4 linked regions of the Homo sapiens genome follow. The protein of the gene in region 2 purifies or fractionates together with the protein of the main gene of each other region. This does not show direct contact. Each region holds a gene or a part of one and is shown on either strand. Other genes may lie near its edges. The genes, in order: OTUD5, MAB21L3, LRP6 and KCNAB2.

What was found.
Region 1: the proteins of MAB21L3 (region 2) and OTUD5 purify together in Homo sapiens (co-immunoprecipitation; one large-scale study listed by IntAct). This does not show direct contact.
Region 3: the proteins of MAB21L3 (region 2) and LRP6 purify together in Homo sapiens (co-immunoprecipitation; one large-scale study listed by IntAct). This does not show direct contact.
Region 4: the proteins of MAB21L3 (region 2) and KCNAB2 purify together in Homo sapiens (co-immunoprecipitation; one large-scale study listed by IntAct). This does not show direct contact.

The regions. Positions count from the first base shown.
Region 1 is NC_000023.11:48,944,881-48,952,666, forward strand, and holds part of OTUD5 (OTU domain-containing protein 5), read right to left. Parts: intron 1-7,786. UniProt on the Homo sapiens protein: Deubiquitinating enzyme that functions as a negative regulator of the innate immune system. Has peptidase activity towards 'Lys-48'- and 'Lys-63'-linked polyubiquitin chains. Can also cleave 'Lys-11'-linked ubiquitin chains (in vitro).
Region 2 is NC_000001.11:116,126,295-116,134,080, reverse strand, and holds part of MAB21L3 (protein mab-21-like 3), read right to left. Parts: intron 6,616-7,786; coding exon 6,437-6,615; intron 5,937-6,436; coding exon 5,742-5,936; intron 950-5,741; coding exon 716-949; 3' UTR 1-715.
Region 3 is NC_000012.12:12,259,163-12,266,948, reverse strand, and holds part of LRP6 (low-density lipoprotein receptor-related protein 6 isoform b precursor), read left to right. Parts: 5' UTR 1-213; coding exon 214-268; intron 269-7,786. UniProt on the Homo sapiens protein: Component of the Wnt-Fzd-LRP5-LRP6 complex that triggers beta-catenin signaling through inducing aggregation of receptor-ligand complexes into ribosome-sized signalosomes.
Region 4 is NC_000001.11:6,094,388-6,102,173, reverse strand, and holds the end of KCNAB2 (voltage-gated potassium channel subunit beta-2), read right to left. Parts: intron 7,775-7,786; coding exon 7,689-7,774; intron 6,852-7,688; coding exon 6,731-6,851; intron 6,645-6,730; coding exon 6,550-6,644; intron 5,539-6,549; coding exon 5,418-5,538; intron 4,906-5,417; coding exon 4,817-4,905; coding exon of another isoform or gene 4,643-4,816; exon of another isoform or gene 4,619-4,642; intron 3,690-4,618; coding exon 3,600-3,689; 3' UTR 994-3,599; downstream 1-993.

The sequences.
Region 1 (7,786 bases), on a different chromosome or scaffold from region 2:
GCGTGGTGGTGCATGCCTGTAATCCCAGCTACATGGGAGGCTTAGGCAGGAGAATCGTTCGAACCCAGGAGGTAAGAGGTTGCGGTGAGCTAAGATCACCCCATTGCGTTCCAGCCTGGGCAACAAGAGCGAAACTCTGTCTCAAAAAAAAAAAAAAGAGATATACTCTAGAAGGCAAAAGTGTGCAAACAATGTTCTCATCTGTGACTGAACACATTTAACAGATATCTACACATATATACATATGTATGTATACAAACACACGTACACAAAATTGGGAAGGCTAGACAGCAAAATATCCCTAAGTCCTGGTGTTATCAGCGATTTTATTGCACTTTCCCTTTTATAAAGTTACACTAAACCCAAAAAGCTTTGAAAATCAAGTCTTTTTTTTTTTTTTTTTTTTTTGAGATGCAGTCTCACTCTTTTGCCCAGGCCGGAGTGCAGTGGCACTATCTCGGCTCACTGCAAGCTCTGCCTCCCGGGTTCATGCCATTCTCCTGCCTCAGCCTCCCGACTAGCTGGGACTACAGGCGCCTGCCACCATGCCTGGCTAATTTTTTGTATTTTTAGTAGAGACGGGGTTTCACCATGTTAGCCAGGATGGTCTCGATCTCCTGATCTCGTGATCCACCCACCTCGGCCTCCCAAAGTGCTGGGATTACAGACATGAGCCACTGTGCCCGGCCCAAAAGTCTTTATCTAATTCATTTGGCATCATAACCTGACCAGAACTGACAAGAATCTATTTATCCCACTTGGGGTAAATATTCAAATATTTCAATGCAGAAAACATTCAGGTGTTTGATTATGAGGTGCTGCCTCAGACCCTGCTGGAGGTGTTATGTAACACAAAGTATACACACCAGGTAAGTTTTATAAATTGTTTTTTTCCTAAATTCCAAAGCACACCTGGCACCACGAAGGTTCAACTTAAATGAACCTGTACAAATGCCTATTTTTTAATTAAAAAAATAATGACCATATAACCTCTTAAAACATAATTTTCATTTCAAAACAAAACCAACCAGAAGCAGCAGACCTTTCCTGGGCCCCTCACGCCCTCTGCTGGCTACCAGAAGCAGCCAGCCTGACCTAGCAACAAGGCTGCAAACTACAGGATCCCAAGCCTGCTCCTTGTGGACACAGGCCTGCCCAGGGATTTATAGGATCTGGGGTATTAGAGACCAGACATAGGGGCCCACCTATCCGTAAGGCCATTTTTCCCCAGCTCAAGCAAGGGGTGGAACCCATCCCCTAAGAAAGCCAGAGGAGAAGCATCTCTGGCAAAGTTGTAAGCACAAGGTTTGGAACGCAAGAGCTCTGGGTTCCAACCCCAGCTTTGCCACACACTTGCTGTCTGTTATCACTCTCAGTTTCCTATAGAATGGGGGATATGTTGATCTACCGGACAGAGCTGTGAGGAGTTTCAGGACCTAAAGAAGCTTTGTAAATAACGTACCATATACTAGGGGAAGTTGTCGCCAATCACAGAAGGGGAGGAGATCAGCACAGAGATTATGCACAACTGAGAGACCCTCAGAAAGTCCCAGGTGAGTAGCGGGACAGGAGGGGAGGAAGAGGTGACAAGGGAATACCCAGCCAGTCCCATCATCAGGGCCCACACCCCAGGAAAATGTGGCTGGATTTCTAGAGATGACAAAGACACCTGGAAGCCCTTAATGAGCTTCCATGCGCAGCACAAGGACTCCTGTTTGTGCACAACATTCCAGTGGTCCAGGTGTCCCTCCTTGCCCCCAAGCCTGTGGATTAACACACTCCAGCCAGTTATGCCCAAGTCCATCCTGGCCACACATGGTCAGCCATCTCCCAGAGTCATGGGCCTGCCCCAGCCAGGGGTCTCCAGCAGGGATGGTGCAACCACAACTATAGTCCCAAACCTGACACAAGAATAGGTTCTTAAAAAGAAGGGAACACAGCGACTTCCTGGCTTTGGAGAGAGGGGAAAAAGAGAGGAGAAAAGGAGATCAAACAGGAGAGGGGCTCCTACTTATCCATTCAAGAAAGACTTACCAGGTAGCTACTAAGTAAGATACTGGGCTGGGCAGTGAGGACAGTGAAATGAATCAGACTTAGTCTCCACTCTTGATAAGCTCACAAACTACTTAGCAGAGGGGTAGGGAAACAGGTAACCACCACAAGGTATGAACAAGGCTGTGAAAAATGTAAATGCCAGGTGTTGTGAAACAGAAAGAGGCTGGGCGAAGTGGCTCTCGCCTGTAATCCCAGCACTTTGGGAGGCCGAGGCAGGTGGATCACTTGAGATCAAGAGTTCAAGACCAGCCTGGCCAACATGGTAAAACCTTGTTTCTACTAAAAAATACAAAAAAAAATTAACTGGGCATGGTGGTGCATGCCTGTAATCCCAGCTAAATCAGGAGGCTGAGGGAGAAGAATCGCTTGAACCTGGGAGACAGAAGTTGCAGTGAGCCGGGATCATACCACTGTATTCTAGCCTAGGCGACAGAGTGAGACTCTGTCTCAAAAAAAAGAAGAAAAGAAAAGAAACACAGTCATTGGGCCAGGCACGGTGGTTCACACCTGTAATCCCAGAACTTTGGGAGGCTGAGGTGGGCGGATCACCTGAGGTCGGGAGTTTGAGACCAGCCTGACCAACATGGAGAAACCCCGTCTCTACTGAAAAATACAAAATTAGCCAGGTGTGGTGGTGCATGCCTGTAATCCCAGCTACTCGGGAGGCTGAGGCAGGAGAATCGCTTGAACCCGGGAGGCGGAGGTTGTGGTGAGCCAAGATCGCACCATTGCACTCCAGCCTGGGCAATAAGAGCAAAACTCTGTCTCAAGGAAAAAAAAAAAAAAGAAAAAAAGAAACACAGTCATTAAGGCTAGCACCTGAGAGGAGGTGCCACCTGACCAAAGGATTAAAACACCAAGACCTCCAAAAATGCTTGTTAACTGGATGAGAAATGAAGTCACTTCTGCCACGAAGTACCAGGAATGCCTGGAGCCCAGCAATGAATTCAGTAGAGCTAAAGTTCTGGGTAGTACTAGGCAGGTAAGCAGGGAGGACCAGGAAGAAAGATGAACTCATATTAACTGAATACCTGCCCCATGCCAGATGCAAAGGGTGACCTCGTTTAATTTTCCTGACCACAGCCCAGGTGGCAGGAAACATTACCCTCACTTTACAAAGGCAGAAAGGAGGCCAGACACGGTGGCTCACGCCTGTAATCCCAGCACTTTGGGAGGCCAAGGCGGAAGGATCATCTGAGGTTAGGAGTTTAAGACCAGCCTGGCCGACATGGCGAAGCCTTGTCTCTACTGAAAATACAAAAAATTAGCAGGGCGTGGTGGCGTGTGCCTGTAATCCCAGTTACTTGGGAGGCTGAGACAGGAGAATCGCTTGAACTCGGGAGGTGGAGGTTGCAGTGAGCCGAGATGGCACCATTGCACCCCAGCCAGCCTGGGCAACAGAGCAAGACTATGTCTCAAAAACAAAAACAAAAACAAAACAAAAAACAAAAAAACAAAGGCAGAAAGAGAAAGGAGCTGGAGTTTGGATACCAGCAAAGCCTAGTGTAGAGGCAACAGGGAAGGCCCCCACGAGCCACAGCATGGAGGACATACCTTGCAGCCCATCCACAGAATATCCTGGTTTGTCTCTAAACATGAAAGAGACCTGAATAGGCCCCTCGCACTGCAGGGTTTGGGTCCTGGGGCAGTCAAACTGGCATCCAGGCTTGGATCTAGAGGCTGGACTGCTAGCCACCCACTGGCTTTGTCATCAGCAGCCTGAGGAGTTTGGGCTCTGGCCCTTCTCTTTCTCCTTTTGGGGAGAAAATGTTGCTCAGGAAGGGCTAGTAGGGGTGGGGGGTAGGGGATAGCTCAGCCATAGATAAGTTTAAGCTCCAACAATGCCCTGGCCTGAGGAGATTGTGAACCTTGCAAACTCATCGCTGAGCCTATGGGAAAATCCCTCCATATCTTTGAGCCTCCACAAAAAGGCTGAGTAAAGCTCCCTAACACCAGAGGATCCCAGGAGCTGAGGCAAGATTCTGTAACCTAGTGGTCTAAGGGCCCAAGTGAAGTTGGAGCAGGCTGTGGAACCCAACTGACTTAGGTTCCAATCTAGCTCCACCAATTATTAGCCATGTGATGATGAACTGCTCTGAGCCACAGTTTTCCAATCTGTGAATGGGGATACCAAGCCTCCCAATAATAGGGATGCTGGGCAGACTCAAATATTACAGGGCTTTGCCCAGTAAGAGACCACTTAATGAGTTCCCTTCCCTTCCCCAGGAGGGAAAAAAGCCTCTCTAGTAGGCTGATTAATAGCCACGCAAAGATATCAAACCCTAACCCCCCTGGAACTTGTAAATGTTACCTTATAATGAAAAAGGTAGGGCCAGGCGTCGTGGCTCATGCCTGCAATCCCAGCACTTTGGGAGGCTAAGGCAGGCAGATCGCTTTGAGCTCAAGAGTTCAAGACTAGCCTGGGCAACATGGTGAAATCTCATCTCTACAAAAAATACAGGCCAGGTACGGTGATTCACGCCTGTAATCGCGGCACTCTGGGAGGCCGAGGCGGGTGGATCACCTGAGGTCAGGAGTTCGAGACCAGCCTGGCCAACATGGTGAAACCCTATCTCTACTAAAAATACAAAAATTAGCTGGTCATGGTAGCAGGCGCCTGTAATCCCAACTACTCAGGAGGCTGAGGCAGGAGAATCGCTGGAACCTGGGAGGCGAAGGTTGCAGTGAGCCGAGATAGCACCACTGCACTCCAGCCTGGGTGACACAGCGAGACTCCATCTCAAAAACAAATAAATAAACACCAAAAATTAACCGGGCATGGTGGCTCGCACCTGTGGTCCCAGCTACTCAGGAGGCTGAGGCTGGAGGATCACTTGAGTCCAGGAAGTGGAGGGTGCAGTGAGCCAAGATTACGCCACTGCACTCCAGCCTGGGTGACAGAGGCCAGCACTGTCTGAAAAGAAAAGAAAAGCCCGGGCACAGTGGCTCATGCCTGTAATCCCAGCACTTTGGGAGGCCGAGGCGGGTGGATCAACTAAGGTCAGGAGTTTGAAACCAGCCTGGCCAACATGGCAAAACCCCATCTCTACTAAAAATACAAAAATTAGCCAGGTGTGGTGGTGGGCGCCTGCAATCCCAGCTACTCAGGAGGGTGAGGCAGGAGAATAGCTTGAACCCAGGAGGCGGAGGTTGCGGTGAGCCGAGACTGCGCCTGGGTGACAGAGTGAGATTCCACCTCAAAAAAAAAAAAAAAAAGAGAAGAGAAAAGAAAAAAAGTGTTTGCAGATGTAATTAACTTACATTATTAAATCTGGAGATGGGGGGTTATCTTAGAGTATCAGGTAGGACCTAAATGCAATCACAAGTGTCCTTATAAAAGAGAGACAGAGGGAAATTTGATACAGACAGAAAAGGAAACCACATATACAGAGAAGGCGATGGTGAAGATGGAGGCAGAGATTAGAATGATGCAGTCATAAACCAAGGAATGTTGGCAGCCACGAGAGGCTAGAGAAGGTCTAAATTCTCCCTGAGAGCTTCCAGAAGGAGTGTGGCCCTGCCAACACTTTGATTTGGATGCAGTGAAACTGATTGTGGACTTCTGGCCTCCAGAATTGTGACAGAATAAACTTCTCTCTCTCTTTTTTTTTTTTTTTTTTTTTTTGAGATGGAGTCTCGCTCTGTCACCCAGGCTGGAGTGCAGTGGCGCAATCTCAGCTTACTGCAACCCCCACCTCACTGCAACCTCCAATCCGTCTCCTGGGTTCAAGCAATTCTCTGCCTCAGCCTCCCGAGTAGCTGGGATTACAGGCACCCACCACCACACCCAGCTAATTTTTATATTTTTAGTAGAGATGGGGTTTTACTATCTTGGCCAGGCTGGTCTTGAACTCCTGACCTCGTGATCCACCCGCCTCGGCCTCCCAAAGTGCTGGGATTACAGGGGTGAGCCACCGCACCCGGCCAACTTCTGTTGTTTTAAACCACCCAGTCTGTGGTAACATTTGTCACAACAGCCACAGGAAACTAACACACCCCCCTTGGTAGCACTCCTTGGTGTCTGTTCCCTAGTGCCTCACAGGTGTGAGACAATATGGCATGGATCCCGCTCTGCAAGGTCCACCTGCCTACCATCCTCCAGGGTGGGAGGTTAGAATTAAGGCAGCAGGGGCCTGGAATCTCCCTTCTCACCCTGGGAAACTACTGACCCTGCCTATGGATGGATGAGCTGCCACTGAAGTGGGGGTGGGGTGGGGGGGCAAAAGATGGCAGCAGCAGTGGCAGTTCATGGACAGATGTCTTCCCAGAGCCTATGGTCAAAAGGTGTTTAGCATTCTGTGACTCACAGCTCTGTCCCAGCAGCCCTGGTGCCAAGACCACCCCCTCCAGCAAAGCACCCAGGAACACTAGCCTGGCTCCATGGACAAAACACAGGGGGCCAGGCGTGGTGGCTCACGCCTGTAATCCCAGCACTTTGGGAGGCCGAGGTGGGCGGATCACGAAGTCAGGAGATCGAGATCATCCTGGCTAACACAGTGAATCCCTGTCTCTACTAAAAATACAAAAATATTAGCCAGACGAGGTGGCAGGCACCTGTAGTTCCAGCTACTCGGGAGGCTGAGGCAGGAGAATGGTGTGAACCTGGGAGGTGGAGGTTGCAGTGAGCCAAGATCGCGCCACTACACTCCAGCCTGGGGGACAGAGTGAGACTCCATCTCAAAAAAAAACACACACAGGCAACCCATCCAACGAGGAACATAGACACACTACTCTCTAAGGACCAACACAAGCCCTCCAGGGCAGAAGGGGAGAAGAGCAAGGCCCCAACATTTGGCTAGGCCACTGAGGGCAGGGGGATTAAAAACCTCTAAGATTGGCAGGGTGCGGTGACTCACACCTGTAATCCCAGCACTTTGGGAGGCCAAGGCAGGCAGATCACCTGAGGTCAGGAGTTCAGGAGACCAGCTTTGCCAACATGGTGAAACCCCATCTCTACTAAATATACAAAAATTAGCCGGGTGTGGTGGCAGATGCCTGTAGCCCCAGCTACTTGGGAGGCTGAGGCAGGAGAATCACTTGAACCCGGAAGCCGGAGGTTGCAGCGACCTGAGATTGCGCCACTGCACTCCAGCCTGGGCAGCAGAGCAAGACTCCACCTTAAAAAAAAAACAAAAACAAAAACAAAAACCAAAAAACAAAAAAACCCAAGGTCCTGTTATTCAGTAATAGAAAGGAATGAAGCACTGATGTATGCTACAACATGGATAAGCCTTGAACATATTATGCTAAGTGAAAAAAGCCAAGTAACAAACAACTGCATATTCTATTATTCCATTTACATGAAACATCCAGAACAGACAAATCAATCAAGCCAGAAAGTAGATTAGTGGTTGCCAGAGGCTGGAAAGGGATGAGGAAATTGGGGGATCATAGCTAAAGAGTGCTGGATTTCTCTTTAAGGTGATGAAAATGTTCTAAAATGGACTGTAGTGATGTGATGGACGCACAAATCTGTGAATATACTAAAAGCCACTGAACTGTACACTTCAAAGAGGTGAATAGTATGGTACATGAATTACATCTCATTAAAGTTGTTAAAAGAAACACACCCAAGGGCTCAGCACCAGCCAAGGACGCTGAACACTGCTTGAAATGTCCTAGCACAATCCCCAAAGGCCAAGGGGTCCCACTTAAAACTTTCATGAAGGGTGAGGGGAGTGGGAGCAGGGAGGAGACTATAACTTGCTTCAGAGCAATGAGTCCAACCTCC
Region 2 (7,786 bases):
AAACCATTCCCCTCCCTGCTTAGAGAATACCAGCGAAGCAGACAGAACATCAGGAGCCACTGACCCACATGCTAAGGAAGCTGGAGGGCAGCAAGGAAGCACAGGCTCACTAACTCATCAGGTGCAATTTTGCGTCAGTGCTGTGGGTACCGATCCAGGATGCAAACACCAGCTACTCAACCAACCAGGAACACTTTGTGTTGATCCAATGCCTTCCCCTTGAAAAGGCGCCAGCACAGTTTCATAGGCACACAGCCCTGCTCAGAGGTAGGCACGTTAACATTCCCATTTTACAAATGGCAGGAGAATGTGCCCATGATCAGTGGGCTGGGCACAGTATTGGCCAGCAGGCTCATGTCCAGACTTCCAGGGGTTCTGTCTCCATCTTCACTGTGAGACGATCACAGCCTGAACAAGGGAAACTAAGTTCAGAACTGTCACCAGTTCCAAATCTGTGCCTGGGGAAGCCTGATGAGAGCTGTCTCCAGGAGAATTAGCTAGGGCAGAAATGCTTGCTGGGCTCCAGGGAGGCCTGGGCCAGACATCCTGGGGCACAGTTTTCCCCCTGCTGAAGTGTTTCTGGTTTGATGTAATTTCCGCTGCCATTCGTGGCCTTTCTCCTAGGCAGGATCCTGGCACCTGACTGAGGAACCATCCAAAGAACAATGTTAAGCCAGAATAAAATGTCCAAGAGCCTCCCAGGCCGGGGCAACCATCAGGGCGGGCCGATCTGGGGGTTCTTCAGGAAGGTGGCCAGCTTTTGGGCCACAGTGTCCAGTTCAGTCGGGTTGGTGCACTGAAAGAGGTTGCTGTTCCGGACGAAATAGTGTTTCAGGAAGTGCTGGCTCACGCACTTGTGCAGTTTCCTCACCAGGCGCAGAAATGCTTTGCTGAAGACCTGCCAGTCTTTAAAGTGGGGATATTTCTCGCAGGTCCAAAAGAGCACAGTCTGTGGAAGGGAGAAGTGCTGTCAGACATTGTTTCGGGCAATTGAGGAGGATAGCTTGGAAACAATTATTGAGCTTATGTGGCCTTGGAAGGAGGGAGAAAAGAGTTGCCTGGGCAGACTGGATCTACCATGAATTCACAATCCCCAACTTCAGGTGGGCCTTCAGTTTACCAGCTGGTCTCCCGCACCTCTTCCCTAATCTATTCCCTCACTCTCCTCCAACATTTCCAATGTTCACTAATCCAGGCAATGTCTTTGCCTCCTACTTTACGGGGAAAATGGAACCCCTCATCCTCCCAAACCAGACAGATCTTGCCTACTGCGGCACCCACCTCTCTTCCTCCCTGCTTCTGCCTCTTCTGCCTGTGGGGCTGATCCCTCCACAGGGCCCTGGATCCCATCTTCCAGGAACTGTATATGACTGATTACCCTCTTCCTCAACTGCTTTTCACAAGTTGAGAGCTCTCCTGCAACCCCAACCCCACATCTGCCTCCTGCCCTCACTCTTCCCTCTGCAAATCCAGGCTTCTCTGGAGAGTCGGCTCTATTATTTGTGGTCATTTCCTCTCCTCCCATTTCTTGCCTCAGTCTGCTCCAATATGGATTCTTCTCTCATTAATCCTCAAAGGCTCCTCTCGTCAAGGCCCAGTGATCTCCACTTTTCTAAATCTAATAGGCCTTTGTCAGCCTGCACCTTACCTGACCTTTCAGCAGACCTGGTTCTCTCGCCCACACCCTCCCTCCTGAGCCATCCTTCACTTGACTTCCAAGCAATCTGCTCTCTGGGTTTTTTCTCCTAGCATTACAGCGCCTCCCTGGCAGGCTTTTACTCCTTGGCCTGCCTTTGAGAAGTGGAGTTTCTGGAGGCTCAATTCTAGGCCCTCTTCTCCTCTCAGTCTACATTCATTCCTCAGCTCTATGTTGCCTCCACCACAGCAGCTCTAATTCTCACTACATATGAATGACTTGCAAATTTGTGTCTCCAGCCCAGACTTCTCCTCTGACCTGCTTATCGTGTATCTCTTGAGTATCTGAAAGTTATCTCAGTCCCAACATGCCCAAACTGAACCCCTGCTCTTCCTGCACAAACCTGATCTGCCTCCAGAGTTGCTTAACTAGCTAGTTGTGCAACACGAAAACCTAGGAGTCGCCCTTCTCCCTTACCGTCCCCAGTCAAGTCCTGTAATCCTCTTGTCTAAGTATTTCTCGAGTCTACCCATTTACCTTCACCTCCAGTATTATTCTACCATCCCCCTCCACACTGCCTCCACATCTCACTGGACCTCTGCAGTAGCGATCTCATCAGCCCATCCCTGTTCTTGCCACCATCCAAATTATCACCATCCATACTGCTGCCAATATACATCTACTTCCCTTCTCATCTAAAATACTTCAAGGTCCCATCCTGGCTAACACGGTGAAACCCCATCTCTACTAAAAATACAAAAAATTAGCCAGGCGTGGTGGCGGGTGCCTGTAGTCCCAGCTACTTGGGAGGCTAAGGCAGGAGAATGGCGTGAACCCAGAAGGTGGAGCTTGCAGTGAGCCAAGATCATGCCGCTGCACTCCAGCCTGGGCAACAAAGCGAGACTCCGTCTCAAAAACAAAAAAAAAATTAATAAAATAAAATACTTCAAGGTCTTCCCATTGTTTGTTAGCTAAAAACATCATCCTTAATGTGGTGTGGTTTATAAGGTTTGGTCCCTGCCTTCCTTTCCAGACTCATCTTGACCTGTGTCCTCCCTTGCTCTCTTCATGTAGCCACACCAGCCATTTCATGCTCCCTTCTACCACAGAGCCTTTGCACATCCTGCTTCGGCTGCATAGGGCACACTTCTTTCCCTTCTTTGTCCATCAGATCAAATTTCCCTAGTACACCCATTGCACACTCTCTTAGTCATGTACTTCTCATAAGAAGCAGCGACAACAGTAGTAGTTTTTATATTTATGTGATTAATTTTATCATTTCCCCTACTGGATTATAAACTTTATGAGAGCAGTGAATGATGCCTATTTTTATTCACTATTAAGCTACCCAGTACCCAGCAAAGGCTAGCCCATGAGAGGAAGTTAATAAACATTTATTGAATAAGTGAATTAATGAATTATCCATTAATGTTATGGTTTAGATATTGGGTTATTTTTATACAGTCTTTATTTTTTAGAGCAGTTGTAAGTTCATAGCAACTATGTATTTAGATTACGTTATTATGAATAAATGAGTTAGAGATAATTTCATGCAAGCGAAGATAACCTAGATACCAGAAAAAATGTTAATTCCTCTTGTTAATTAAGCTTTTATCTCCCTAAGCAAACTGGGGCAGTTAAGCTCATTATAAGCAAGCCAATGTATTTTGAGTGGGTTTTAGGAATAAATAAGGCAATAAAAGATAAGCTTTTGCTTCACATGAAATAGTCTTGGGGCAGAGCCTTTTTGGGGAGAAGGTGAGGGCCTTGTAAGAGAGTGTCAGACTTAAGGTGAGGCAAGGCTGAGTGCCACAGCTTCCTAATGCTGTTTTGCAACCCAACCTCTTCCACTTTCCTCAAAATGAAGATTTGGCAAGGATCCAGCACACTCAAGTCATCATCTGGGATGGTGTCTAGCACCACATTTATCACCAGCCACATTCATTTCAAGGGCAGGGATGCCTAAATGGGAGATAATTCTGTCTGTGGACTAAGGATGGAAGACCAGAGAAAAAGGCAGTTAGCACTTTCTGTTTATCTTACTCCAGAAATAGCCCACTTAAAAAAAATGCCCATCCTTGAGGATGCCCTATTGTGCCACACAGGTGGGTCAGGGAGGATTGAAACAGAGAATCCTTAAGGAGTTGCCTTAAAATCCACCAGGTGACTTAGGAGCCATCAGAATAGAAGTCAGCCCTTGTGGGGAGTACAGATTTGCAAGCAGCCATGGCTGGGAGATCCATGGTGGCCCCATTCAATCCTGCCTGAAATATTCATGTCACCGAATGGTATTTCCATCCATCTTAATTGAGAGGTAATGAAGTCAATCGTTAAGGTTATGAGGTTTTGATATGAGATAGACTTGAGTTTGCGTCTCAGCTCTGCCTCTTCTAGTGTGGCCTGTATAAAGGAAAGCAAGAGAAGCTAAATCCACAGAAAGAATCAAAGTATCTTCTGCAAGCACATGCCCTCCATCCAGGAGAACAGCCTGCGTGTTTTTAGGGAAGTGTGCTTGGGACACGTTGAGAATGTTGGAACTCCAGAGAAAAGCCCCAGTGCATGTGAATGAGATGTTAACAGATTCTTCCGCAGGTCAAAATGGACAGGTTATTGGAAAGATAAGAAGGTGAAGCAAGGTTAGTGATTTTGTGCGAAAAAAAGAGAAAAGTTGAGTAAGATGTGAAGCCACTCATTCATTTGCTCAACAAATATTTAATGCGCTACTATGTACAAAGCATTGGGAGAGATAATGGGGGTTTTGTTCACCTTCTCCCAATGAATAAGAACATCGAGTTAGGTCAGCATGCCAGCTGGACAAGATCAATGTGGTATCTGTCCTTCAATAAGTTACTTTAGAGCAGACAGAGTAACATGGGGCTGGAAGACAGTTTTGTCCATCGAATGAGAGAAGGAAGAGGTATGTGAGGAAGGCACCTCACAGATAGGTGACTGCCCCAGGGACTTGTGCTTACCTGAGTAGAAAGGGAGTCCATCCTTTCTGGGGCCAGGGAGGAGGGCTGAAGCTAGGCTTCACAGCCCACACTAGCTAGGCTGGGCTGGGGTGTCCTGCAAGAGTCTCCTACCTCCCTACTCCAGCAGGCTGCACAGAGCTGCTACATGAGAGTACACTTCACTCTGTGTGGTTCACAATTTGAGAAAGAGGGAGTCGGGAGGGTGGTCAAAGGCCCCCTCTCCAGGGAGGCCCCCTGACTGCCCAGTCCAGGTCAGGCTCTGCTGCTCTGAGCCTTCACAGAGCCATACTCCTCCCTTTCCAGTGCTTCCTCACTGTGTGATTGTACACGCACCCACTGGCTTGCCTGACCCATGTCTATCTCCCATGCTAGACCAGAAGTGCCATGAGTGAGGAAACACATCTGTGTCTGTTCACCTTTGTGCCTGCAGAGGTTGAGCCCACAGCAGGTACTGGGGCAGGCCTCTGGCCCAGAGTAATCTCAATAAACACTTGCTGAATGAGTGAGTGAAGGCATGAATGAATGTGTACTGTTGGGTTTAGGGCAAGGAGAGGCAGGGGCTGGCAGAGCAAGGGAAGATCCTTGCCTGGTGATTTGGACCCTGGAAAGAAGTGTGTGGCACTACGTGTGTGGTAACCTCTGTGTTGCATTTCCTGGTCCCCTCTGTGTTAGTGGGTCTGTGTGCATGAGGAGGTGTGCGTAGGCTGCAGTGGGTTTAAAGACTGGCGCAAACATAAAGCCATCAAAGTGTGAGGCACAAACCACATTTTGTGATTCATTTCTGAACCTCAGCAGGGTTTCTGGCACCTAGTGAGCACTCAGGTTGGTTTGGTGGGTAAAATAAAAGTGAGAGGGGAGGAAAAGTGGGATAGAAGAGAATTGGAAAAGGGAAGGGAGGGAGGAAATTTTACCCTGGGCAGGGGTGTTGTGGACTCCCATATGGTGCTAGTTTACATATTTCCATAATACGTAGTAATTTGTTGGATGGCAAATATAGATACTAGAACCTCATCCTGAATTTTTCACACATGCTACCCCTTCTGAGTGGCTCTGGCCAGGCCCTACAGAGGCCACAGGAAGAATGACCTATCCAAAGCTGCCCCTGGGTCTTCTCCAACCTGCCCCACACTCACCTGCAGATGGTGGGACGTGATAACCGGCCTGTTCCCTGGGCACCAGATGTCCTCCTTCAGGTGCCTCATGACCTGAAAACACTTCCTACGGCAGCCCCCATCTTCATCCAGCTGTTCCAGTAACACCTGCTCAGCACGGAGGAAGCTCAGCTGCCAGTGATAATTTGAACAGGCCAACAAGTTAAATCCAAACGACTGGAAGAAAGAGAAAAATATTGGGAAATAAGAAGAACAATGCTCACTGGTGTAGAAAGCCATTTCTGAAGCAGTCTGCTGGTCTGGGGAACTTGTCACCAGGCAGACAGCACATCCTACGTGGGGATGAGAAGGGGGTGCCAGGGAGACCACAAGCCACCTTGGATGTGGACAGTTAGAAGATGGTGCCCACTTCCTCTCCTACAGCAGTTCTCCAACTTGAGCATACATCAGAATCACATCACCCAGAGGGCTTCTTAAAACACAGATTGCTGGGCCCTGTTCACAGGGTCTCATTCAGCAGGTCCAGAGTGGGGGCTCGGGAAGCTGCATTTCTAACAAGTTCTCAGGTGACGCTGCTGCAGGGCCCACACTTTGAGAACTGCTGATCTAGTAACACCTCAACTTTCCTTCGGAAACTCATTGGCAGTCAGTAATGCTGTGACTGGTTAAGCTGTTGGCATCACTGCTCTGGCAAGCTGGGTCCCGCCCACTGATACCTTGATGCACTCCACTCTCTCTTGGGAAGGCCAGCGCTGCAGACATCGAGGCCACCGGGCTTTCTTGGACCAGGTGGTGGGGATCTCCACTGCGGGGACCAGCTCCAGTTCCACCTGATATGCAGATGTTTCCACAGCAACCCAAACTGCAGAGCGGTTTCCTAGCAGGCTGACCTTACCTGGTGGGAAATGACCAAATGGATAAGGAGAAGAGAAAGGTTTGCACATTACAAGCGTTCAAACAAGAAATTTGTGAGCAGTTGCTCTGACCAGCACCTTGCAACTGGTGTGGCAACTTTCACAATGTCTGTAGCACGTGAAGGATCACAATGCCTGTAGCACGTCAAGGTTTTGACATCAAAACCAGATGGTTAGTCAGCTAGCCAGCATCGGAACATTACTAAGAAGTCTCATTGCTGGTGAGTTTTTCTTTCTCCCCCAACCCCAAGGCATTTGGGGTACCTTTTCTTTTAAATTAATAGATTCTTTTCAGGAGGATCAACTGAAAGTAAAAGCCATAGAATAAAAAGAAAAAGTGTAGTATAGATGCTCCTTGACTTACGATGAGGTCACATCCTGATGAAGCTGAAAATATTCTAAGTTGAAAATGTATTAATACACCGAACCTACCAAACATCATAGCTTAGCCTACCCTACCTTAAAAGTGCTCAGAACACTTACATTAACTTACAGTTGGGCAAAATCATCTAACACAAAGCCTATTTTATAATAAAGTGTTGAATATCTCATGGAATTCATTGAATGGTTGTATGGGTACTCGAAGTATGGGTTCTACTAAACATGTATCACTTTCGCACCCTTGTAAAGTAAAAAAATCATATGTTGAGCCATGGCAAGTTGGGGAACTTCTGTATTTGCTACTGTAAAAATGAAACCTAACTATTTTTCTATATCCTTCTCCATTCCACCCAAATATCTAAATGTTGGTTTTCAGAGTAATGCAAACATAGGGAAGGCTAATGCCATTTTTTTTCCCTCTTCACCTAGATATTCTGACACTGGTTAGGGACAGCATCAGCCTCCTTATTTATGCATATGCCTTTGGTGAAATTTGGCTTCACCTTTCTTTTATCTGAGCCTCAGTCTCTTAGATGGTATTTGTTTTTACCATCCATTCAGCCAGCCGAGCCTCAGAGGTATCTATCATCAGAAACCCCTGTAACCACAAAATACATCAAAGCACGTCACAGCCACTGTTTCAGAGGATTGAGTGATTTGAAAGAAGTCTCCATTGCCTCGTTTTCCAACCAGGCAAAGAGAAGAAGAGAAAACTAACGCATCTAGTAGTTTTCCAGCTCACATACTATAATTTCCTCATTTCCAATTTGC
Region 3 (7,786 bases), on a different chromosome or scaffold from region 2:
CTGGCGTCGCGCGAGCCCGGGGCCGAGCGGCGCGGTAGAGAGGGCGGCGGCGGCGCGCGCGGAACCTTGACGTGCCCCTTTCTTTCTTCTCTCGCTGGGAAGCTGGGAAGTATGAGCGTGCAGCCCTGCCGCTGCGGCGGCCGCCCCGGCTCCTCGCCTCCCCCACTTCTGGCCACCCCTCGCCGGTGAGAGAAGAGAACGCGAGAAGGGAAGATGGGGGCCGTCCTGAGGAGCCTCCTGGCCTGCAGCTTCTGTGTGCTCCTGAGAGGTGGGAAGAGTGGGGGCACTGGAAAGTTGGTGGGGTTCGGGGGGAGGTGGCCTTGTTGTATGTGTCTAGGGGGAGGGGAGGGACGGAGGAAGGGAGAAGGGGAGAGGAGCGGGGAGAGGCCTGGTCGTGGGGAGGGGGAGAGAAAGGGGCCCGGGAGCAGGGGCTGCGTGCACCGCCCGGCCACAATGCGGACCTGGCCTGGCTTCCCAGACCTTCCCCGGACACATCGGAGCTTCGATCCCGGCTGCTGGTCTTAGGGAACCCTTGGCACCCCATGCTGTCGGGATGACTGAGTGTCTGTGTGCCTCTCTCTGCCTGGGGTCTTCCAGGGAAAAGGGTCTTTGTACGTATTTTGGCTTTTAAAATGTTTGAGTCCGAGATGCTTTAAGGTTGGCCTTATCCATCGAAGCCCCGCCACCCACTCCCCACCCCGTTTCGGTGTTTCTTAGGTGAACTTTTAAAGCCCTCTTGCTATTTTTTCCAGGCCTTGTTACAGGTAATGATTGGCTTCCGTTTGGGATATAATGACCCTGGGTGAGAGCGCAGTTGGAAAGTGACTCCGGGGTTATAGGTCGAGCGTTTCAGCATTGGGAGCCTTCTGAGCTTCAGCCCATAATAAAATAAAACATTGCCCTTGTAACCTCTGGTATTCACGGCTTGCCCCTATTTTCGGAGTATGCAAGTGTACAGTTGGCACTAAGTAGGGAAATTCATCCTCGTGTGAAGAGGAGCCGGTCCTGGGACCAAAATGATAATTTGCTCTGCACCCCTGGGGACTGCTTGGCACTTTGGTAAATTGCATAGGCTGTTCGAGATAATTTGCTCTGGGAATCGCTTGAATTCGATGGCACTATGATGTTTTGAATTGGACTGCAAAGCTGACACATGCTCTGTGACTTTTGTGACAGTTCACAAAGATTTTTGACTGGCCCGTCGGCAGCTCTTCTCAAACTATTTAGTGTTGAACTTGAGATGGCTGTGATGGCTGTGGAGCATTTACCAGCAGAGGAATTTAAGTACTGCTCGATACGGTGGCTTGTAGTTTTGGTTTGGTAAAGTTCTTACTGGCGTTCATAGTAAGTTCTTTTCAGGCATGTGACCGCTGGTCGCTGGAGATTTTTAGGTGTTAACAAGCTAAACTTTTGTTAAGTTCTCCAAACTAATTTAAGTTTACAGAACACTAATAGTAACTAATAGTCTGTGACAGGTGTATATTTTTGCGTGTACTGTGTATATGTATTTCGGATGAGAATGATTGAGTTTTTTTTTGGAGGAGGAGAAATACTTTCTTCAGTTACTCTGTAGTAATGCAGCATTGTGTTTGCATGTTATATTACTTGATACTCTAAGCATATTACAAAGTTTTCCCACATGTAAACCCCGGAAAGGTAGTGTTCATTAGATTTTTGTGGCAGAAATTTTAATGAAGTGTTACGTACTGGAGAGGTTTCATAAGTATATACTTATTTTATTATTGGCATACTCTATTGAAAGGGGTTTTGCTGTAGCTGTTAGAAACAACTATATTTGACATAAGAATATGTATGTATTTTAAGACATAAGGTTAATAGGGCTGACAAATATGAGAACCAGCTGATTGGTTAGAGTCGTGGGAAAACTTATAACTTGGGATGTTTCTGGTTGTCTAGTTGTATTTCTTGGAGGAGAAGCGTGTGATGTAAATGCCGTTTGTTTAACACCAGCTTTGAGACCAGAGCTGGGTTTGTTCATTATTGGAATTTAGATAGGTTGCACTTATTTATGTAACAAGACCTGGAAGAGGTAATAGTTTAAATTGTCTCGTTTCCACTAGCAAAGTTTTCAGAAGTGGAGCTCTCGTTTTAAATGTGGCGAAATATGGTGTAAGGTGGTCTTCTAATATGTAACAGTACTGTACTTAGCTGTGAGTACATATTATTTGAAGTAAAACTGTCTTTTGATGTAAAATATTTTTGTTCATAATTTAGAATTAATTCATTCTTTGAGAATGTCATCCTCTGTTATAGTAAAGATATTTAGTCAACCTTGGACTCCAAGGAGAAAAATCTGATTGATTTGTTGCATTTAGGTCATTTTTTTCCCCCACAAAGAATTGGGGCTTTAACATTGGCTGGGTGTGATGGGGTATGTGAGAGTCTGGGAGACCTTCTGTCCTGTAGCCCTGTTGAATTAGTAGCAGAAAGCCAGGGAATACTGTTAGTGCTGTGTCCCTATCTCTATCATCACATGACAAGGTATAAAGGAAAGATTTGGGAATTTCAATACTAAAATCTTGGATTTAAAGCCCAAGTGTCACAACTTCATAACTTTGTGGTTCTGGTCTAGTCCGCTTCTCTAGGTCTCAGTTTCTTTACTGGTAGTGTGGATAATGATACCTGACTAGTTTGCAGGGTTATTGGGTGTTTTAAATGAAATAATATGGAGTACCTTGTTAATGTTACTTTTTGCTATAATTTTTGCTTGTTCAGGGACATATCCTCAAATGCTTTCATGATTTGAGATTTAATTTGTATAACGTTCACAATTTTTTTTTTTTTAAAGAGACAAAGTCTTGCTTCATCACTCAGTCTGGGGTGCAGTGGTGTAATCACAGCTCATTGCAGTCTCAAAGTCTTGGGCTTAAGTGATCCTCCTGCTTCATCCTCCCAAAGCTCTGAACTATAGGCACGTGCCACTATGCCCCCAATTTTTTGTAGATATGGGGTTGGTGTGGGGGTGTCTTGATATGTTGCCCAGGCTGGTCTCCAACTCCTGGCCTCAAGTGATCCTCTCAAAGTGCTGGGATTACAGGTTACAGGTGTGAGCCACCATGCTTGGCCAGGTTCACGAATTCCTATTTTTTTTTTGGAGGTAGGGTCTTGCTCTGTTGCCTAGGCTGGAGTGCAGTGGCATGATCGCTGCTCACTGCAGCCTGGACCTCCTGTGTTCATGTGATCTTCCCACCTCAGCCTCCCAAGTAGCTGGGACCACAGTTGTGTGCCATAACACTTGGCTAATTTTTATAGAGCCAGAGTTTTGCTATGTTGCCCAGGATGGTCTTAAACTCCTGGGCTCAAGTGATCCTCCCACCTCCGCCTCTCGGAGTTCTGGGATTACAGGTGCAGATTCACACATTCTTTTTTTTTTTTTTGAGACGGATTCTTGCTCTGTTGCCCAGGCTGGAGTGCATTGGTGTGATCTCCGCTCACTGCAAGCTCTGCCTGCCGGGTTCACGCCTTTCTCCTGCCTCAGCCTCCTGAGTAGCTGGGACTCATTTTTTTGTATTTTTTAGTAGAGACGGGGTTTCACTGTGTTAGCCAGGATGGTCTCCATCTCCTGACCTCGTGATCCGCCCACCTCGGCCTCCCAAAGTCCTGGAATTACAGGCGTGAGCCACCACGCCCGGCCAGATTCACACATTCTTTTTTTTTTTTTAAAGACAGAGTTTCGCTCTTGTTGCTCAGGCTAGAGTGCAATGGCATGATCTCGGCTCACTGCAACCTCCGCCTCCCGGGTTCAAGCGATACTCCTACCTCAACCTCCTGAGTAGCTGGAATTACAGGCATGCACCACCATGCCCAGCTAATTTTTTTTTTTTTTTTGTATTTTTAGTAGAGATGGGGTTTCTCCTTGTTGGTCAGGCTGGTCTCGAACTCCCGACCTCAGGTGATCTGCCCATCTCGGCCTCCCAAAGTGCTGGGATTACAGGTGTGAGCCACCACGCCTGGCCCAGATTCACACATTCTTAAAAGTGAAAGGGATCTTGGTCGTTTGAGCCTCACCAGTTTATTTGTAAGTGGGGAAACTCAGATTCAGAGATACTGTAATTTAATAAAGGTAGGTTAATTAAAGATGGGGCAGGGATTTATTATTCATTCTTTTAGCAAATATGTATGGAATACCTCCTATATGTCAGCCTCTGGTACTGATGGTGAGTAAAACAATGTGTTTCCTAATCTAACGGGCCTCACAGTTTAGGTTGCCATCCTTACCATTTTCTTAGTTCCATTCGGATACTGATGAGAAAAAATAATATCTGATCTTCTGCTGGAAGTATTTTTGATAAGAATATAGGTTTTGGAATACCATCGGTGTGTGTAATCTGTGAAATACTATTTCTTAGCTTGCTTTTTTTTTTTTTTTTGAGACGGAGTCTCGCTCTGTCGCTCAGGCTGAAGTGCAGTGCCGCGATCTTGGCTCACTGCAATCTCTGCCTCCTTGGTTCAAGCGATTCTCCTGTCTCAGCCTCCTGAGTAGCTGAGACTACAGGTGCCTGCCACCATGCCTGACTTATTTTTGTATTTTTGTATTTTTTTGGTTTTTGAGACGGTATCTCACCCTGTCGCCCAGGCTGGAGTGCAGTGGCATGATCTCAGCTCACTGCAACCTCTCCCTCCTGGGTTCAAGCAATTCTCCTGTTTCAGCCTCCTGAGTAGCTGGGACCACAGGCTCACACCACCATGCCCGGATAATTTTTATATTTTTAGTAGAGACGGGCTTTCACCATATTGGTCAGGATGATCTTGAACTCCTGACCTCAAGTTATCCACCTGCCTTGACCTCCCAAAGTGCTGGGATTACAGGTGTGAGCCACTGTGCCCGGCCTAATTTTTGTATTTTTAGTAGAGATGGGGTTTCACCATATTGGTCAGGCTGGTCTCGAACTCCTGACCTCAGGTGATCCACCCACCTCTGCCTCCCAAAGTGTTGGGATTACAGGCGTGAGCCACCGCGCCTGGCCTTTTTAGCTTTTTTTGAGGAGGCTTGTTATATAAAAATTCTTCGTTACTTTTTTTTGTTTTGGTGGGCTGGTAAATATTGTTGGAACAAACCACTAATGTTTTGCATCTTGTATTTCTGTAGAAGCGATCCTTTCTTCCTTTAAAATCAGGTGTTATAAAGTCTTGGGGAAGTAGAACAAATTTTGGAGTGGCAATCAGGAGAATTAAGTTATGGTTCTAAATTTGCTGTGTAACCTTGAGTGATCTCTGTACACTTTATTTGGAGATTAGAATTCATGTTAACACATTAAGGGTTCTGAAAAGTCCTGAGGTAAAGAGACCGGTTTTAACTTTGTTTAACCTATTATTTTCCAAACTTGTCAAGTATTACATTGATATTTGATGACAGTTTCATATAGTTAATTTGATACTGTCATTCCTGTTTACTTACCTGGCTTCAGGTTTGCTCATTTGGCTAAACAATAATTTGTCTGGTTATTAAATTTTAAGGTTTTAGCTTGTTATTATCAGAAGGGCTAATAGTGATTTCCTGTGGTTCAATTTTTTTTTTTTTTTTTGAGACGGAGTCTTGCTCTGTCGCCCAGGCTGGAGTGCAGCGGCGTGATCTCAGCTCACTACAAGCTCCGCCTCCCGGGTTCACGCCATTCTCCTGCCTCAGCCTATAGGCGCCCGCCACCACGCCCGATTAATTTTTTGTATTTTTAGTAGAGATGGGGTTTCACCGTGTTAGCCAGGATGGTCTCGATCTCCTGATCTCGTGATCCGCCCGCCTCGGCCTCCCAAACTGTTGGGATTACAGGCGTGAGCCACCGCGCCCGGCCATGATTCAATTTTTAAGAGATTTTTTTCTTTGCTTTAATTGGAAGTTTTTCCATTTGCTGTACTGAACTACTGTGTCCTTATATATGCTTTGGCTGTCAGAAAGGACTGTTTTAAATATCAAAGGAGATTCTGGGAAGGGATATATTAATGGAAAATATTTTATGAGAACGTATATTTTTTGTTTAAATATTTTGCGCATACTGGAAAAATAATGTTTAGTGCTATTTAGGCCATGGGTAACTACTCTGAGAAAGATTATTTTCATCGTAGAAATTCTATTGAAAGTTTACATTTAGAGAAGATTATATGGAAGGTACTATAGCAGAAAGACATGGCTTGTTGTTAAACAGGCCAAGTTAAACTCTTCTGCCGCTTTGTGTTCCTTTGGACAAGTTATTTCCTTTCCTGTTAGGTGGGGATATAACTTGCAAGACTTCTGTGAGAACTGACGAAATGTTTGTAAAGGGGTAGTAGAACGCACAGTCAATAGTAGACATTGAATAAATGGTTGCTATTATTAAGATGGCCGAATTAAAAGAAACATTATACTCTGGAAAGACTGGTAAAACATTTTAAGTGTCGCTATGTCCTGGGCACTGTTTTTGGCAGTTGATAGTTTTAGGCCAGTGGTTTTGGAATTTTTTTTGATTCTTCTGCAACTGGAATAAAAGCTCCATAAAATACTTTTACTTATGGAAATTTCTGTTTTGTTTGATATAAAACGGAATGACACTAAATTTTTTTTCTTTTTTTTTTTTTTGAGACGGAGTCTTGCTCAGTCGCCCAGGCTGGAGTGCAGTGGCGTAATCTCGGCTCACTGCAAGCTCCGCCCCCCGGGTTCACGCCATTCTCCTGCCTCAGCCTCCCGAGTAGCTGGGACTGCAGGCCCCGCCAACACGCCCGGCTAATTTTTTTTGTATTTTAGTGGAGACGGGGTTTCACCATGTTAGCCAGGTTGGTCTCCATCTCCTGACCTGGTGATCCAGCCGCCTCGGCCTCCCAAAGTGCTGGGATTACAGGCGTGAACCACCGCGCCTGGCCTAAATTTATTTCTAAAGGATTGCAGCCATAACTATTTTAGGTGATGATTATTATAAATAAGCTACAGAACAGACAGTTCAAATGATTGTGATACTTATTAAAGAGTTAAGCATGGGCAAAATAATTTTATCAAGACATCTAATTGAGAAATTGCATTATTTGTTTACAACAATTATTCAGTTGGTGGATTTCTTTCTGCAGGATGGCTGAATGCTATACTGAGTTTCTGCATTGCATGTTTTCACTTCGGATAAGGGTGTTTATCTTCTATAAAGTAAGCCTCACTTCAGTGAATAAAACACTGTTTTATATGAGTAACTTTGAAATTTAGTCAAATATACAGACTAGGCAATCTAAGAACAGGCTGTTTGCTCTTAAAATTATTTATTTTAAAATACAATTTGTCAGTACATAAATGCAAGGAAACAAGGTTATTTGGTATTATTAACATATGCTTTTGTTTCTCAAGCTGTTCGTGTTTGCGGCAGTGAGTATTCTCACTAAAGGTTCAAGCTGTTCGGGTGTGAGGCTAGAAACTTTTAAAATGTGCTTGGACTCTTCGGTGAAAATTATTGATACTTTGATGCTGTGATCCTTTTAGCGGTATCATAACTTGTAGTTTCTGTAATATCTTGCTTGGAAGGACCTTGTATAAGTGCTTAAATATTTTGGAACTAATTTCAGGAGGAGATTGGGGATGCAAAATGAAATTATATTTTTAGGCAGAAAACTACATTAAGTTATGTAAGTTATTAACACCAGGCCTAAAGTTATTGATGAGACTCTCAATAAAAATAACATGACCAGCAGTAGTCTTTTTTTTTTTTTTTTTTTGAGATGGAGTCTCGCTCTGTCACCCAGGCTGGAGTGCCGTGCCATGATCTTGGCTCACTGTGACATCTGCCTCCTGGGTTCAAGTGATTCTCCTGTCTCA
Region 4 (7,786 bases), about 110 Mb from region 2:
GCGATTGGAGCCCAAGCACCCCTGGAGAGGAAGGGAGGGTCCCCACTGGCCCGTGGGGTCTGAGTTCAGGGGTGTGGAGGGAGCAGACTCCACCGGCCCAGGCCCAGCTAAGAGGGGGCCGACCCCTTTCCCCAGGCACAGCCCCAGGCTGGCAAAGGGAGGGCCCTGGGCTGGGTGCAAGGCGCGCCAGGAGTCCCAGCCAGGGTGGCCCCGGCGGGGGCGGGTCCAGCTTTGGAAGCCAGGCTCCCCTGTGAGCCGTGGCTTGTCTGGTCTTCGCCCACGGGAGGCTGGACAGAGGCTGTAGCCAACACAATCACCTTTACTTTGTACTCTGTGTGTATGTTTTGGTTTTCTGTGTTTTAATAAATCCTTTGGGAAAGGATTTAATCAGAGGCTTTTTCTTTTTAAGATTCAAGATTTAGAATGGGGGTGGGGGCTGGGGCCAGGGAGGAGTGGTGGGGGGTGGGGGCGTGTCCGGAAGCCTTCTCTTGCCTGGGATGGTCATTTCACGGGTGCAGGGGCTCACTGGGAAGGAGGGGAGCCCGAAACAGGGGTGTGCTGGGGTGAGGCCCCTCTCACCTGTACCCCAAACACATACCATGAGAGCTTCCCCAGGCCTGGACCTCTGTCCTTATGAGAACAGCAGCCAGCCAGGTCCCCAGAGGGACAGCAGCCTCCCAGCAAGCAGCTTTGGGCCCTCAGAGTTGGTGAAAGAGAATGTGTGTGTTGGGGGCGGCAGGGGAGGCACGCACCCTCCCTTGGCTGAATCGCTTGGGAGAGATGGGGGACAGGTCTTCTGACCACCCTGTCCCCATTCTCTGTCCCCGCTCTCTCTCCACGGGCCCTTTCCAACCCACCTGCCCTTGGCTGCAGGCTCCGGTTTGGGGGATGCCCCAGGCCCTGCTGCTGGCAGCCTTTTCCTCCCCTCCCGTGTCACCCTGGCCCAGCCCTGACCCTGAGGAAATGAGAGGAGCAAAAAGTCACAGAGACCGATGGGTTTGGGCTTTATTTATTTTGTCATTCCATAAATACGGTGGCTGTGTCGCGGTCTGAGTCTCGTTTGGAAGCTCGAGGCATAGGACAGTCTCTGCCTGGGTAGGGAATGCAGTTAGCTGAGGAACCACGGTAGGTTTAAAAAAAAAGACTCGGGGAGAGAAAAAGCACATTATTTACATGACTGGACAAGGACAGAAGGTGGGAGGAAGCCCCTGTCACTCCTTGGGACCTGGGATCTGAGCACAAAGCTGAGTGGGAAACAGTGGGGGCTCCGAAGCGTCCAGCAGGGCCAGCGCCCTCCTTTCTAGACCCCGACTGCCCTTGGTCTTCTGCCCTTTCTTGGATGGTCCTACCCAATACCTCCTCCCGAGAGGGGGGACCTGGCCCTAGGAGGCAGAGCCCCCTCACATCCTCCCTGTAGATGGGTGTGGAGCAAGCAGGACATCCAGGAACCAGGTCGTGGAAAGAGCTGCGCCAGAGGCTGACTGCATCCTGACACTGGGGCCTGGCCTCTCTGTGTTTGGCAAACCCGCAGCCTTTGGGGGCTCAGCTGCCCCAGGTGTGCCTCGCATTAAGCAGCAGTGCCCACCCTGGGCACCACCTCGCGCTGGTCCCTCTTCCAACAGTGGGTGGGGCTGGGTGGCAGTGGGGATGGGGCCAGCCACCCTCCCTGATGGCGAGGGTGGGCCACCTGCCCTCTGGCACCATTGGCCACTGCAGGACCCTGTCCGGGAAGGAAGCAGGCGACCCCCACCTGGGCCCAGGGCCATAGGCTGGGACCTCCGTTGGGAAGGGACTTCCCCACCCCACACTCACAGGGCTGCTTCTGGTGAAGCAGGCAGCAGGACTGAGTGGAGACCCCCGGGACTTGGTCTATGAGGAGGGGCAAGGGTTCTAGGCGCCAGGGGCAGCATGAAGGGGGGTCGGTAATAGCAGAAGCTGATCCCCCTCCTCCCCTCGCCCCAGCCTCTCCCCGCTGGCCTTTCTGACTTTCACAGTTTCCCAGGCCTTGGCCCGGCCAGGACTGGACAGCAGGCTCCCGCAGGACGGCAGGGTGGAGCCTTCTGGAATAGTGGCTCCTCCAGGGGCAAAGCGGGAACAGAGGTGCCTGCACTGAGGGTGCGCCCTGGGGGCAGGAGACACAGGCTTCCCTATGGAGCTAGCTGGCGAGGGGTGGGGGTGGCTTCAGTGGAGCCCTGCCCCGCGTGGTCTGCAAAGCCTGGGTACTGCTTGGGACACAGGCCTGGGCCTGTAGGTGGCACCCCGCACCTGCAGACTTACTGGCATCCCTTGCCCTCCGGCCCAAGCTGCACGGGGGCGTCACTCTGGCCTGTCCTGCCCTCTCTCCCCTCTGCCCAGCCTGTCCCAGGTGTCAGGCAGTGGGAGGGGCTAACCAGCCCTGCCCGTCTTTCCAGGGAGAGGTTCCCTGAGGTCTTTTCCTACATTGTGGGGGTGCTGTGGGGGTGCAGCCCCCAAGTCATGGGCACAGAAAACCCCAAAGACCCTTCCTTACTGAAAGGGTCCAAGCATGCGCTCCACAAAACCCAAGCCCACCAGCTCGGTGCAGAGCAGCGGCCTGGGCTGGCGGGCGGCTTTAGAGAAAGTCTACAGGGGCCGAGAGGAGTGCATCCTTGTGCACAGGGCCGGCCCCTGCTGCCACTTGCCGTGGTGTGGCCAGCAGCCACCGTGCAGCTAGGAGCACATGACCACAGGGCCTTCCGGGGCCAGGACAGAGGGGTGGCCAGACAGAGGGGCCTGCCCCACTGGGACCCCTCCCAAGCGCTCCGGGCCTCACTGGCATGAGGCTCATCATTGGTGTGTAGGAGGAAGACGGTGGGAGGCTGAGCTAGAAATCACACCGCTACGCTTTTTGTGGCTCCCAAACTGCAGAGTCAATCCCCCTGGGGTCCCTGCCCCTGCCAGCAAGGGTGGGGGTGGGTGGGGGTCAAGGGCCAGCTCGAGCTTGGTAGGCATGGCCCCTGCCGGGACCCAGTGGGGCAGGTTGGAGCAGAAAAGGATGGGAGAGGAATCTGTGGTCAGGCCCCAGATTCCTGGAGCCCTTGGAAAGTGGGAGGTGGAGGAAGACCCCCAGTGGGGAGGCCCTGCCCCAGCAACCAAGGCCCTGGCAGAAGGGGCCCCTCGATGGGCCAGACCCCTTTCCCCTCTCCCCCTACACCAAGTGGGGATTCTCAGCAGAGGAGAGGCTGGCCCTGCCCGCCCCAAGGACCCAACCAGGCCTTGGCCTGGCCTTGACTTTGGGAACCTTGGAAATCTTTGGGCCTTGACTTTGGGAATCTTGGCTGTGGCTGGGAGAAAGCTGGGTGGTCTTGGAGGATGAGCAGAGGTGACAGGCTTGGGTGGGACCGTTTGAACATCCTTCCTAACCAGTGCCTTCCCCGGCACAGACTGGACTTCGACATTGTCCGGCGAAGCAGTGGGTGGTGTCTGGCAGCGACTTGGGAGATCATTTCCCGATGACATCACAGTGTGGTGTTTTCTCTTGGATGCAAACCACACTCTTCACTTGGCTTCAAAACAGCTTAAGCGAGCGAACAGAGACTAGGAGGGAACGGAAACTGTCCGAGCAGGCGGGCGGGGGCGGCTTAGGATCTGTAGTCCTTTTTGCTGTAGGGTTTATTGCCCAAAATACTATCAATCTCGTGGATAATGGAAGATGACAGTTTCGGAAGGACCTGCGTGCAAGAACAACAACAAATCAGAATCCCACCAACAAGACGGGCCTGGCCTGGGGAGGAGGTGGGGCCAGGCTCTTCCAGATGGTCGGCTGGCCAGGCCCGGGTTGCCCCATCACATCTGGGCTCCATCTGAGGCAGATGGAGGCCACGCTGCTTTTGTGTTTCAGAAGGTTTGGGGCAGAGAGGAAGCATGCCTGGGTCTGTGCACTCCCTCTCAAATGTCAAGGTGCCCTAGAACCTTCCTGAAGGGTGGTGGCAGCAGTGACATAAAATGGAAACTCCAGGCCAAATGCTGGACTTCCATGTCCGTGACTGCTTTTTCCAGCTGCGCCTGCCTCAGCATACAGCACCGCCACCCTTCCGGGTGACACACCCGGGGACCGACTTCCACCTCGCCTTCTCACCCCCACATCCAGTTTGTCAGCCAGTCCCGGGGGCCCCACCTTCCCAAACATCCAGGATCCAACCACCACTCCCGTCTCGGACCCGCAGCTGCCACTTCCCACCAGGGCTCTCTGCTTCGACTTTTGCTTCCCAAAGCCTCCCCGATGGAGCAGCCGGAGAGCAGCCTCCCTTTCCAGGCTGAGCTGCAGCTCGCCCTCCTCTGCCCACAATTTTGCCACGGCTCCCGTCTCACTCAGAAGTCCCTGGAGGTGTTTCGTGCCTCTCAGGATCTGCCCCTCTGCTCCAGGCCTTTTTGGGCCTTTGCATCAACTCTTCCTGCTGGTGGAAGGTTCTTCCCGCAGGCATTTGCGTGACTTACTCCGCATCTCTCAAGACTGCTCAAGCACCACCTTCTCAACAAGCCCACCTGACAGGCCCCCTTGAACCTGAGTCTGCAGCGCCACCGTCCCTGGCCCCAGCTCCCTCCCTTTATCTCTGGCTTCTCTCCTACAGCGCTCGTCCACCCTGACACACATTCTAACCTCCTTGTTTCGTGCAGTTAGTGTTCATGTCTGTTCCTGCTGGAAAGCAAGCTCTCCAGGAGCACAACTCTGATGGTTCACGGGCGCATCCTGAGTGCCTAGAACAGAGCCTGGCACGCAGGACGAGCCTGGGAGGATGCACTGGACGGGGCTCGGGCTGGGATGGGCCCTCTGCCCAGCAGGGCCTCTCACTCTTACCTGTATTGCCCCAATGTTCTCCATGAGCTGGTCCGCATTGGAGGCCCCCAGGAGCACGGAGCTGACTCCCTCATTCCTCAGGCACCAGGCTGTGGCGGCGAGACCCAAGGTGAGGGAGAAACACCCACCACAGGGGCCCCTGATGGGTCTGCCTTGCCTCTGACTGGGCCGAGAGACCCAGCATCTTGGTCTGGGGGTCTGAGGGGGTCTAGGAAGCCCTGCAGTGCTGGGCACGGGCTTTGTCTAAGAGGTGGCTGGAGGAGGCATGGGGGAGCCCGCTGCTCCCTGATGGAGAGGTGGCCCAAGTGCTTAGCGCTCCCCATCCTCTTCCCATGAAAGCGGGAGCCCCATTACCTATGGCTGGCAGATGGAGGGGGTGGCCCAGGTCCTCAGGGACTCCTGACATCCCCCTAGAGGCATGGGGTCCCAACCATGCCCCTTAGAGCCCGATTACCCGAGGCTGGCTGGGGGATGATGTCCAGGGATCCCTTCCCTCTCTCCCCGGAGACACTGGCCCCATGGCAACCCCACCCTGTTACCTACGGCCAGCTGGGGCAGGTTCTCCCCAGGGGCACTGGCCCCATGGCGACCCCACCGTTACCTATGGCCAGCTGGGGCAGGGTGCAGCCCAGGCGCTCGGCGATGGCCTGCAGCTCCTTCAGCTTGGCTTGCTGGCGCCGGCCCTCCTCACTGAGGATCTTGTCCTTCAGCCACTGGTAGCCCTGGTTGCGGGGGAGGGGAGCAGCACAGCTACAGATGAGAGCAGGTCACCTGGACCCCCACGTGCAGGGGGCCGATGGGCTCATTCCTTCTGGACCCTTCTCCCTCATAGGGGCTCTTCTCATCTTGAAGCCAGGGCAGTGCCCCTGCCCCAGGCCTCTCAAGTAGGGGAGAGTGGGCAGTGGGCCGGGCACGGGCTGGTGGATGAGCGGGGCCTGTCCAGGCTCTGAAGTGCAAAGACTGTGGTGCTGGCCCAACCCCAAGTCAGGACAAGGAGGCGAGGTGCTGGCCTTCCTTCTCTTAGGAAACTTGGCAGCCTGGGGTCTCGGCTGCCACCCGTGGCCCAGAAGAACCTCCTGGCCCTAGGGGAGTGCTCTCTCCCCTGGCCATCCCCCCCAGAGGATTGCAGGGCCTCCTGGAGGGGGGCCCTGACCTTGCCATGGGATGGGAGGAGTCGGGGGCCAGGCCACGTTGCCCTGGAACCCAGGGCTGTGGGCCCCAGTGCTGAGACTGCTGGCTGGGCAGACTTTCTTGGCCTGCTCCTTGTTCTCCAGATCCTGCAGTCTGGGGACCCTCCTGAGTCCCCACTCAGAGGTTGTGTGGTGGGGAGGGGCGCCTCTCCCAGGGTCACCTCCATGTGGCTTTGCAGCCCCCATCTCGGAGCCCAGGCCCAGGGGTCTCAGAGTTCTGAATGCTGGGCTGTGGTGGGGGGCAGAGGTGGGGGATGTGGTAGGGGGTAGAGATGGGGGGATGTGGTGGGGGCAGGGGGGGGGATGTGAAAGGGCCTCTCCACTTGGGCCTGTGCCACAGGCTGGGCAGCCCCTCTACACATGGGATCAGGCCAGGAGGGGCTCCATGTTCTCACGCCAAGGAGCCCGCCCCCAGCAGACCGAGGTGGGAACAGCTGCAGCTCCCGGAACCCCTGCCCAGCACCAAAGCAGTCGGCCCAAAGGTCCCACCCGTCCAAAATGCCTATCCCCTGCCCGTCCCTCCCCACCAGGCTGTTCCTTCACCTTCAAGGAGGCTCTTGAGTAGGGTGGGATGCCACTGTCGTACTTGCCAGAAACAATGCCACAGGCCAGAGGGGACCAGGTCATGGCGCCCACTCCTGAAGAGGAAAAGCAGGTGGAGTCAAGCCCTGGGCCCGAGAGCAGGGGTGGGGTGGGGCGGGGCGAGGGGCCCGAGGGTGCCCACCTATCTTGTGGAACAGCTCCGGCAGCTGCACCTCCACTTTCTCACGCTGGAACATGTGGTACTCAGCCTGCTCGCAGATGGGCGGGGTCAGGTTGAACTGCCGGGCCACGGAGTAGGCCTCCTGTGAAGGCAGAAAGGGACCCCGAGGGCCCTTGCCTGTGAGCAGGCGGGAGGCTGCCGGGGCAGCCATGGAGAGGGCACCAAGGTGTCCCCGGAGCAGGCTGGCCCAGCAGCTGCAGCCCGGGCTCCCCACTGCTCACACTCATAGCTTCCCTGGGAGCCAGGCAGGCCCTGGTGAGCTGGGAAAAGGAGGTGGGTGGTGGGACCCCCAGGCCGGAGGGTCCAGTTATGAGCAGCCCAGGCTCTGAACCACACAGCCTGGATGTTAATCTTGGCCCAAGCTGTGTGACCTTGGCATGTTACTGAACCTCTCTGTGCCACAGTGTCCACATCTGAAAAATGGGCTGCCTGCGGCACTCACCTGGTAAAGGCACCGGTGAGGATTGCATGTGAGAGGGTCCCTGTGGAACCCTTGACCCTAACAGCACCGGGCACGTCTCAGGAGCCCAGTGGAAACAGCTGACGGTGTTGTCACCCCAGAGTGCTTGCTGAGCTCCAGGGCATCTGCTAAGAGCTTCACACTGGCTCTCTCAGGGACTCCTTAGAATGGCCCCATGGGGGCTCACCTAGCAGATGTGTTCTACAGGTGGGGAAACAAGCTCAGAGACGTTAAGCCATTTGTCCAGGGCCACACAGCGCTGGGATCCATGCAGAATCCCCGTCTGCAAGGCCTACAGACATAACCACCACACTCCACCATCCTGTCCCTCCCTTAGCACCCAGGCATCGGTGCAGTTGGGACCAAAGGCACAGACCCCGCCAGAGCTTTGGGGTCTCCATACGCAGCCGGTGCCGGGAGTCTGTGCCTGGACACACACATGCTGCGCGGCCACCGTACCATGATCTCCATGGAGCTCCAGCGTGACGTGCCCCAGTACATGGCCATCCCCTGGTTGATGACGTGGGTCATGGCGCGGACGGTCTCTGTCGTGAGAG